Homo sapiens: one gene and its partners. The protein of the gene in region 1 interacts with the protein of each later gene in a pairwise test. Each region holds a gene or a part of one and is shown on either strand. Other genes may lie near its edges. The genes, in order: RPRD1A, ZNF76 and PCNT.

The links.
Region 2: the proteins of RPRD1A (region 1) and ZNF76 interact in binary tests that used the Homo sapiens proteins (3 or more experiments, as listed by UniProt).
Region 3: the proteins of RPRD1A (region 1) and PCNT interact in a two-hybrid assay, tested with the Homo sapiens proteins (one large-scale study listed by BioGRID and IntAct).

Annotation. Positions count from the first base shown.
Region 1 is NC_000018.10:36,060,861-36,064,585, reverse strand, and holds part of RPRD1A (regulation of nuclear pre-mRNA domain-containing protein 1A), read left to right. Parts: intron 1-3,725. UniProt on the Homo sapiens protein: Interacts with phosphorylated C-terminal heptapeptide repeat domain (CTD) of the largest RNA polymerase II subunit POLR2A, and participates in dephosphorylation of the CTD by RPAP2.
Region 2 is NC_000006.12:35,293,610-35,296,485, forward strand, and holds the end of ZNF76 (zinc finger protein 76), read left to right. Parts: intron 1-141; coding exon 142-306; coding exon of another isoform or gene 307-312; exon of another isoform or gene 313-319; intron 320-846; coding exon 847-960; intron 961-1,170; coding exon of another isoform or gene 1,171-1,302; exon of another isoform or gene 1,303-1,306; intron 1,307-1,534; coding exon 1,535-1,639; 3' UTR 1,640-2,376; downstream 2,377-2,876. UniProt on the Homo sapiens protein: May be involved in transcriptional regulation.
Region 3 is NC_000021.9:46,428,653-46,432,377, reverse strand, and holds part of PCNT (pericentrin), read right to left. Parts: intron 2,369-3,725; coding exon 2,146-2,368; intron 1,872-2,145; coding exon 1,721-1,871; intron 850-1,720; coding exon 163-849; intron 1-162. UniProt on the Homo sapiens protein: Integral component of the filamentous matrix of the centrosome involved in the initial establishment of organized microtubule arrays in both mitosis and meiosis. Plays a role, together with DISC1, in the microtubule network formation.

The DNA of each region.
Region 1 (3,725 bases):
GCATTTACAAACTTTTAGCTAGACACAGAGTGCTGATTGGTGTGTTTACAAACCTCTAGCTAGGCACAGAGCACTGATTGGTGCGTTTACAAACCTTGAGCTAGACACAGAGTGGTGATTGGTGCGTTTACAATCCTTTAGCTAGACAGAAAAGTTTTCCAAGTCCCCACCTGACCCAGAAGCCCAGCTGGCTTCACCTCTCAATGGCACTCGCCGCGGGACTTTGCGGCACCTAGCTTGGGCACTCTAGCAGCCCAGAGGGAGCTCGTCCCCCATCAAGCCCAGCAGGCACCCACCCGGAACCGCGCGTAGCCCAGGCTCCTGCCGGCGCCTCTCTCTCTACACCTCCCTGAGAGCAGATGGAGCCGGCTCCGGCCTCTGCCAGCCGCAGAGAGGGGCTCCCACAGTGCAGCAGCGGGCTGAAGGGCTCCTTGAGCACGGCCAGAGCAGACGCCGAGGCCGAGGAGGCGCCGAGAGCGAGCAAGGGCTGCTAGGACGTTGTCACCTCTCAATAGGAGAAAGCTATCTAATATTTAATGTATTTAAGAAAATGGTGCAAATGTGGTAAAATTGTAAGATGTGCTTTTAGCAAGGTTTGTGATGTTTCCATATGTTTAAGTGTTTCATAAGTGGAAAACGTTAAAGCATATAAAAAGATGCTTTAGGAGGAGGGTGGTAGTGATGATAGTGTTGATAGTAACGGTGATGCTGATGAACATACCGCTGCCGCTTTAATCCTCATATTAGCCTGGGCTACTCTGCCAAGGGTTTCCTTTTCTTGACAGATGACTGCTTTTGCAGGGTGTAGCCTTTGTGTCCTTCCCCTTTCCTGCAGTTTTGCTCATCAACTTCAGGATTCTCATCTCCTGTAGTTTAATGATAATGGCAATCAGTTACTGAGTACCAGACATTCTTTTAGTTATTTTACCATATCTTGAATCACATTATTTCTGCAGAATAATTATGAAAGGAATCGATCAATCTTGAAAGTATATTACAACAAACTAAAGAAAATTAGTTGAACATTTTGTGTTAAGCTAGGCATTCTTTAGTTTCTCAAAGTGTGTAAAGACAAAAATGTGAGAGTGGGAGAAGCTACTGTTTAAAATAAAAGAATGAGCTGGGTACTGTGGCTCATGCCTGTAATCCCAGCACTTTAGGAGGCTGAGGGAAGTGGATTGCCAGAGCTCAGGTGTTCGAGACCAGCGTGGTCAACATGGCAAAACCCTGTCTCTACAGAAAATACCAAAATTAGCTGGGCATGATGGCGCAGGCCTAAGGAGGCTGAGGTTGGGGGGTCACTTGAGCCCAAGAGGTTTAGGCTGCAGTGAGCCAAGTGCGCCACTGCACTCCAACCTGGGCGACAGAGCAAGGCCCTGTCTCAGAAAACAAACAAACAAAAAAATATAAGAATGAATAAGTAAAATTATATATGTTAGATAATGGTAGCCATTCAGTTATGAAGGTTTCCCTTCTTTTCCTACCTTCCTTATCTTTGTCTCCTTTAAAGAAAGAGTTTCTGTTTGGAGGGATAAACTTCAAGGCCTTTGTGAAGACCAAAATGGCATACAATTTTCCTGATAAATGCAGTAAAGTGTAACCAAAAATGTAAGTGACCATTTTGTTACTTCTTTATTAAGATGTAATTCACATACCACACCTTTTATCCATTCAAAGTATACTATTCAGTGGTTTTTGATATGTTTATAGAATTGTAAAGCTACCACCAGTTTTAGAACATTTTTATTACCCAGAAAGAAACTCCATGCCATTTAGCTGTTGTCCCCAGTCCCCCATCTCTCCCAACCCTAGGCAACTGCTAATTTACTTTGCCTCTATAGATTGGACTATTTTTACCATTTCATATGAATAGAATTATATAGTATGTGGTCTTTTGTGTGTTTTCCATCCATGCTATAACATGGATGAGCCTGGAAAACATGTTAATTAAAAGAAGCCAGTTGCAAAAGACCACTTACTGTCCTTCAGTCTTTTCTATGGCCGAATAGAATATTGTATGAATTTAGCCATTCATCAGTTGATAGACGTTCGAGTTGTTTCCGCTTTTTGGCTATTATAAATAATGCTGCTGTGAGCACTCCTGTACAAGCTTTTTTTTTTTGTGGATATGTTTTCATCTTGGATACTTACTGAGGAGTGGAATTTCTGGGTCATATGGGAATCCTATGTTCAACCTTTTGAGGATCCACCAGGCTATTTTCCACAGTGGGTACATGTTTTTTTTTTTTTTTTTTTTTTTTTGAGACGGAGTCTCGCTCTGTCGCCCAGGCCGGACTGCGGACTGCAGTGGCGCAATCTCGGCTCACTGCAAGCTCCGCTTCCCGGGTTCACGCCATTCTCCTGCCTCAGCCTCCGGAGTAGCTGGGACTACAGGCGCCCGCCACCGCGCCCGGCTAATTTTTTGTATTTTTAGTAGAGACGGGGTTTCACCTTGTTAGCCAGGATGGTCTCGATCTCCTGACCTCATGATCCACCCGCCTCGGCCTCCCAAAGTGCTGGGATTACAGGCGTGAGCCACCGCGCCCGGCCATGTTTTTAAAATACATTCCTACAAGCAGTGTATGAGGGTCCAGTTTTTCTACATCCTTGCTAATATTTGTTATCTTTTTGATTACAGCTGTCCTAGTGGGTATGAAGTGGTATCTCATGATTTTGATATGCATTTCCCAGATGACTAATGACACTGAGCCTATTTTCATGTACTTATTGGCCATTTGGATGTTGTCTGGAGAAATGTCTATTCTGCCTATTTTAAAATTTGTCTTTTTATGATTGAGTTGTAAGTGTTCCCAATGTATTCTAGGTACAAGTATTGTATTAGATTCATACCACAAATATTTTCTTCCATTCAGTGGGTTGTCTTTTTACTTTCTTAATAGTGTCCTTTGAAGGTGACTGTTTTAAACTGTAAATGTCTCAGTCAATACTAGGCTAAATTTTAAAACTTAATATACATCATTAATTTATATTCATTTCTGTAGAAATATTGACCATGAACATACCTGAACTTAGAAACCAACACTAACATTTGGGCTCTTTTCTACACACACTCGCTGAAAGATCTCTATAAGAGCTGTACAAAACAAGATAGATAGGAGGAAATTCTTTGTAGTTGGTGAAGGTCACTGCCTTCCCTAGTCTAGTGATTGTATCCTTTGTACCAGCCTCTTTTATGTTATATTGGTGTCTTAACAAAACTGTAAGTGCCTCAACCCCTTAAAGTATGTTTACTCACCCTGTATTTATTGATTGTGTATTACAATGGTAAAGAAAACAAAGGGAAAACAGTTTATCCCTGCCCTCAGAATTTATAGTCTTGTGGTAAGGGCAACCAATAAACAAAAAATTTTAAATATAAATTTCGTGTTTAGTTCTTTGAAGGAGGAAATCTTTAGTTAGAGGGAAATCATCTCTGCAAGGTGACGTTTAATAAAAGACCTCTTTGAACAAGTTGCGGGGGTAGGGGGGCTTGGGCCTGCAGCCACTGGGAATATGTGAAAGTGCTGAGGTGATACATAGCTTTGGATGCAAAGAGCCAAACCTGGAAATGGTCAGCCTTTGAATGCCTGTTAACTTTGTTTCCTAAATTTTTTTTTTTTTATGAGACAGTGTCTCACTATGTTGCCGAGGCTGCTCTTGAACTCTTGGGCTCAGGTGATCTTCCTGCCTCAGCCTCCCGAGTAGCTGGGACTACAGGTGCACAC
Region 2 (2,876 bases), on another chromosome or scaffold:
TGCCTGTCACCCATCCCTTCCACCACTATGACATGAAACTAATAAGCTGACCTTGTCTGGGAGAGCAGGTATATCTTCCTTAGGGACTTTCAGACAACCCTCCACTGACACTGCCAGCTCATCTTCCCCTCCTGTTGGCAGGTCAGCCTGTCCCCGGAAGACCTGCAGGCCCTGGGGAGTGCCATCAGTATGGTCACCCAGCACGGCAGCACCACCCTCACCATCCCCAGTCCTGATGCCGACCTGGCCACATCTGGCACACATACAGTCACCATGGTCAGCGCCGATGGCACCCAGACGCAGCCCGTATGACCAGGCGGTTTGCTTGGGGTTTCTTATTTTGTCATTCCTTTCCATGGGGCGGGCATTAAAGTGCAGCCTAAACTAGTCAAGTCTTCTTACCAGGACAAAGATTCCCCACAAAAGAAGGGGTCTTCCCCACAGTTCCTGGGCCATGAGCAGCTCTTACCTTTAAAAGCAGTTGAATGGAGGTCAAGAGACACTTTCTAAATCTCAATTCAACCCTGATTTGTTGTGCAACCTTAGGCAAATCACTTTTCCATGGACTTCTGTCCATTTTCAAGTGAGGGGATTAAAATATCTCTGGAATTTTTTACAGCTCTGTCCTTCTGTGATTCAAAATCCCTAAATTAAATTGGGCTCTAAGTTGGGAGGAAACCCAGCCTTACTTAGCTCTGAGCCTCAGGCTAATTAATCTGACCCATACGGTTTTATCCATTCTCTTCTGGGTTGTTCCCAGCACCTTAATTGGAGGGATGTTTATTTGGATTGTGGGGAGGGAGAGTATACTGCAGGTGGAATGGAAGACCTCCTTTTGTCTTTCAGGTCACAATCATTACCTCTGGGGCTGTGGTGGCTGAGGACTCAAGTGTAGCATCTCTTCGTCATCAACAGGTGGCACTGTTGGCCACAGCCAACGGAACGCACATTGCAGTGCAGGTGAGTAGAGATCTGGGAGGAAAGGGGATCCCACGGCCAGAGAAGTCAACAAGGAATAAAGGGGAATTAGATGAGGATCTTGAAGAGAAGGGCATCTGACTCAAAAAGAGCCCATTTCAGAGGACAGATCCCTTTCCTCCTGCATCCATGCATCTGTCTCAGGCTCGCTCTTGGCTGAGGCAGAATGTTGAAGCCTCTTCTGGCCTTCAGGATAACTCCGATGGCAGTCCACCTGTGGTCCAAGCCCTTCATCATTTTGTGTCTCTGTTTCTTCATCTGGAAATGAAGGAGGCTGACGTAGATGATCACCACGGTTCTCTTCAGCCAGTCCTTCCTCCGTGAGCAAGTGGGTCTCTCTGACCCTGGCTATTCCAGGGCCCCCTGGCCATGCCTAGCCTAATAGGACTCTTCATCCGTGAACTTCATGTTTATTGGAGCCCTACTAAGTGCTCAGCGTGTGGCACTGGGTAGATGGGGGAGAGTCAAAAAAAAAAGTAGGCCACATATTACTAACACTGGAATCTAGCAGGGAGGGTCTCACTGTCTCCTTCCTTCTGCACCCCCTTCCCCACAGCTGGAGGAACAGCAGACCTTAGAGGAGGCCATCAATGTGGCCACTGCGGCCATGCAGCAAGGGGCTGTGACCCTGGAGACAACAGTGTCGGAGAGTGGCTGCTGAGTCCAAGAGGGCTGGGTCCCACACCATGCTGGAGGAAGTGCCATCTGCATGGCCACTCTTGCCCCCAAGGGCCCAGGCTGTGGCTGACACATAGAAGGTGGCCACATAGGTCTCTGGGGTGAGAAGACAGCAAGAAAACTGCCTAACTGAAGGGAATGGGGGCCCTGCTCAAGAAGGGGGCCAGGCAGCTGGAATCAGGGGAGTGCATCATCCTCGGGAGCTGACAACAGCCAGGCTACACCAGGGCACCCGCCTCTCAAAATCAGCTGGGCGCCCACTCTCCTCCTAAAGAACACCCTTCTGGCCCTCAGTCTGTTCCCCTTCTCAGGTAGAGATTGGGGCTGCTATGGGGACTGGCCCTGTAGGGTTGAGCCACAGACAGCTCTTCAGCCCAGTAGCAGTGGAGCAGGCCCTGTCCTGCCCTCCCAGCAATAACCACCTCCCTGGAGGCCAGCTGAGATGCCTGGCTACTTGGCACCAGGGACTTCCTGACACCACAGTCAATTAATTCCTCAGGGGCCTGTGGCTGAAGAAAAGGTGCCCAGCCCCCACCACTCCTCAGCTGCCCCCCAACCTCTCTATGGCAGAGAGGCAGGGAGTGGCCCTGTACATAGACTGCTGGGGATTGGGTTTGATTTGTTTTGTTTTTTTTAATTCCATTTTGATAATTTTTTTCCTGCTCTGGGTGGTGGTGGCACATGGATGAATGAGTATTTAATAAAAGTTCCAAATTTCCACCTGGGTCCCTCCATCCTTTCAGCTCTAGGCCCGGGTGGCAGGGTTGGTCAAATCAGGCTATCAGCCCTGTCTCCCTGGCACAAACCCCACTCAGCCTTGGTGCCAGAGTGGTGGGGCTGGCCTGCCAGGGACACAGGTGGGAAGGAAGCCCAGTATAAGATAAAGCCCTGAGGAGCTGCTGGTGGCTTCTTGCCCACAGCTGAGCAGGTGGGCTCCAGGGTAGCCAAACAGGACCAGGGTGACCGCTGCTTCCAGGCTCTGGCTGAATCTCAGGCCTCATGTGATTGAGCTGGGGGAACTCTTTTCCTGCCTTTTCTTGTGAAACGTAGTCAGAGCCCCTCCAACCCAGCCACCCCCAAATCACACAGTCAGCTTCTCCAAGAGGGCAAAGCCCCAGGTTAGAGTGAGGCTGGGGGACACCTTTGCCAAGGTTACTGAGATTCAAGGAGCAGAGTCTGATGCCTCTGGAGCTGAAGTCTTGGCTCTATTACCCAGCTCT
Region 3 (3,725 bases), on another chromosome or scaffold:
AGCTACAGTAACAGCAGTGTGGTGCCAGCGTCAGGGCACACAGACCAGAGCAGACCAGGTCAGAGGGCCAGACATAAATCTCGCGTCCCCCACGTGAACCATCCTAACTCCAATTGCTTATCGTTTTTAGGTGTGGACGCTCCGCCGGCAGGCGGCTCTCACCAGCTTCTCCTTGTCTCTCTGCCACTTCCTCCACTGCTCCGCAGCCGCTGGGCTCTGCCTGGCCTCCGCGCTCCTCCTCGCAGCCTTGCGTCCTTCTTGCTCTTTCAACCGTGGGTGTGACTGCTCTAATTCTGCCTGCAACCACGCTGGTTTCTCCCTCTCTCTCTCCAGAGAGCATCTCAGCTCTCGTTTTTGGGTGTGCAGGGCTTCCACCGTCGACTTCAGTGTGGCACTTACCTCCTTCTCTCTCCTGAGCGCCTCACAGTGCTTCTGAGCCTCAGCCTCAAGCTGCTGCTGAGAATGCAGGGCTTGCTGCTGCACCTTTTCAAGCATCGCTTGCAAGTCCACCACCCGGGACTTCTCCTCCTTCAGCTTCTGCAGCAGAGCGTGATGGGCCTGTGTGTCCTGGTGCACGCAAGCCTCCTGTGTCCTCTGGCTCAGCTGCTCGGTCAGGAGCCGCTCGTGCCGCAAGGCCTCTGACAGCTCCAGGGTGCGGCTCTTCTCAGCCGCAAGGTCCTTCTGGAGCTCAGAGAGCTGGCTCCGCTCCTGAGCCAGCAAGGCCTCGCAGCGTGAGTGCTCGATACGCAGCTCCTTCTGCAGGTTGTCCTTGGCCGTCTGCTCGTGTTTCAGTGCCACGCAGAGTCGACTGCTCTGAGCACGCTGTGTCTCCAAAGACGCCCGCAGCTCCTAGACAGCAAACACATACGATGGGAGACACTGAATCAAGAGGAAAAGTGTCTACATGGTTTTCCTGTCCACATTTGTTTATATACTTTAGCCCAGCAATTCTACCTTTTGAAATGCACCCTATTAGCCACATGTAGGGACAACATTTTTTTGTTAGTTCATCAAGTAACAAAAAACCCAGACTGCGGAGATGACATACTTTTTTCGGAAATGGTGTTGAGTCCTGGGTTCAGAGATGTTCCCAGTCTGTCCCTCTCCAGAAAATGATTCAGAGATGTCCCCTGCCCGCCCCCTCTCCAGAAAATCACTCCACCAGAGGCTCCTGCCCCCTCTTCAGAAAATCACTCCACCAGAGGCTCCTGCCCCCTCTTCAGAAAATCACTCCACCAGAGGCTCAGAGATACACACCCAGCTTGCTAGGAACCACCACTTCCATGCTGTTGAAAGCCATAACCCATGGAACTGGCACAGACTTGCTCAGAAGCCACAGCAGGCCTGCTGGGCCTCCGCCATGCAAAGCAGAGGCCCCACCACCAGCCTGCCTTGTGCACAGACCTCTGAGGCTGTGCTCTGTCTGGATGCCAGCGAGGAGGCTGTGTCCATCTCCACAGCAAGTGCTCAGGGACGGGGGGGGGCTCCGAGCAGGGGTATCGTGCCACCACGGGTCATCGCACTCTTCGCCCTGTGGTGGCTGCCACTACACCAAGGTGCAATTTTACCTGCAAACACAGCCCTATCCTGCTACGTCACACTGCTGTCAACTGGGTGCACTGCCATGAAGAACAGGAAAAGAAGGATGAAAGAGGAGCATGGCTTCAGGCTTCCAGTGCACACAGCCCATGCCGGCTGCCTTGCCCTGACACCCTGTTACCTCCAGGGCCTTGGCACTCTGGCTCTCCCTCTGCAGGTGCCGCAGCTGCTCCTCCTCCAGCTGGCTCTGCAGGGCACGCCCCTTCCCCTGCTCACTCTCCAGCTCCTGAAGCGCGGCCTTCAGCTCGTTCTCCTTACTGCTCAGCATGGATCTGCGTGGAGACATCGCAGAACAATCTGACCACGTGGGCCAGAGTGTGTTCCCGGGGGCTGGGAGCTCCAGGAGGGGAGGCAGAGCCCTGCCAGGTCCCACACGTGTGCTTCACCCCCCACCACAGGATTATCAACCCAGGGACAGCAGGGCGCGGTGCCCCTGGGGCTGCCCAACTGCGGCCCACCAGAGGTTCTGTCTCCCTTCATCACCAAGAAAACATGGCACAACGGGGGGACTCCCGCCAGTGTCCCAGGAAGGGGGATCAGGCGCACCTCAGCTGGAGGACCTCCTGCTGCACCTCGCAGAGGGACCGGGACAGCTGTTCGCTCTTCTGCCTGCTCTCACAGAGGTCGGACTTCAAATCTCGCACTACAGTCTGCTCCGCCGCCAGGAGCTTCTGCACGCTGTTTGCCTTCTCTTGCTCTTCACTCAGCGTCTTCTGCAAGTCACCAGCAATGCACTTCTCCTGCTCTACTTTATAAGCCAGCAGTTCAACTGAGAAAGACAAAAGAACAGTAACAGGCCCCCATGAGCTCCTCGTGCTGCACAAGTGACACCAGGTTAGAGACAGACTCGTGGGGGCGTGAGGTGTATGTGCTTCGGGAAGAAAGGAGGTTCTGTGGACTAGAAGCTTTCACTGCGGGTGGAACCAGGATGCTCAATTCTGCCCTCTGGGCCCATTTCCTTCCAGGGCCCACCCACCTGGCCGGGAGACACAGAGTCCAGGAGTGATATAGCCCTGGGGCCATCCTAAAAATGCCACCTCACCCCCACTCACACCCTAAACTGCCTCCAACAGAGGGAACTCCAGGCCCAGGTGGCTTTACTGGAAAATTCTCCCAAAACTTAAGGAAGAAATAACCCCAATTCTAGACAACGGAGGGCGGAGGGGCTACTTCCCAAATACTTCCCGCACCCCGTGGGGCTGGCGCTACCCAGCACCAAGACCAAAAAGGCACAACAGAAAACAGACCAGTGCCCCTCACGAGCACTCAGACAGCACCGGCCCACCACCCCCATGCCCCTCACGAGCGATCGCACAGTGCCGGCCCCCCTGTGCCCCTCACGAGCACGTGCACAGCGCCAGCCCCCCCATGCCCCTCACGAGCGCTCGCACAGCGCCGGCACCCCCTGCCCGTGCCCCTCACGAGCACGTGCACAGCGCCAGCCCCCCCATGCCTCTCACGAGCGCTCGCACAGCGCCGGCACCCCCCGCCCATGCCCCTGACAAGCGCTTGCACAGCGCCAGCCCCACCCATGCCCCTCACGAGCATGTGCACAGCGCCGGCCCCCAGCCCCAGAGAGCACAAAGGGCATGGGCGCCGGGACAAGGGCCGTGGGCTGAACTGCAAGGCCGTTCCCCTTGACGGAATCCAAAACTAGGAACAGAGGGCACTTGCCCAAGCTGACCAAGGGCGCCTGACCCCACATGCGATGGTACGAGACCAGCTCCTGCCCCCAAAACTAAGAGCAGGGAATGGCATCTGCCCACACAGCTGACGGCACAGCACGTGAGAGAACACGGGCAAGAAACAAAAAATCGTTACTTACCCACAGATGACCTGAGCATCTACATAAAAACTCCCGAAGAAGCTAAATTAAATGTAGAAACCTACGAGACATTCCTGAACTCTAGCATGAGCTCCCAAGAATCTGCCAGCACTCAGAGCCCAACCCAGGCCCCTCTTGCCCACATCAGGCCCAAGAGTGAGGCCTCCGTGCCAGCCCCACCCAGCGCTGCCTGTCTCCAGGGTCCTTTCTGCTCAGTCCTATCAGCTGACAACCATGGCAACACTCAGGGGCTTGACTAGATGATGCCCTGTCACCACCCTCTGCTCCCAAGGCCACACAG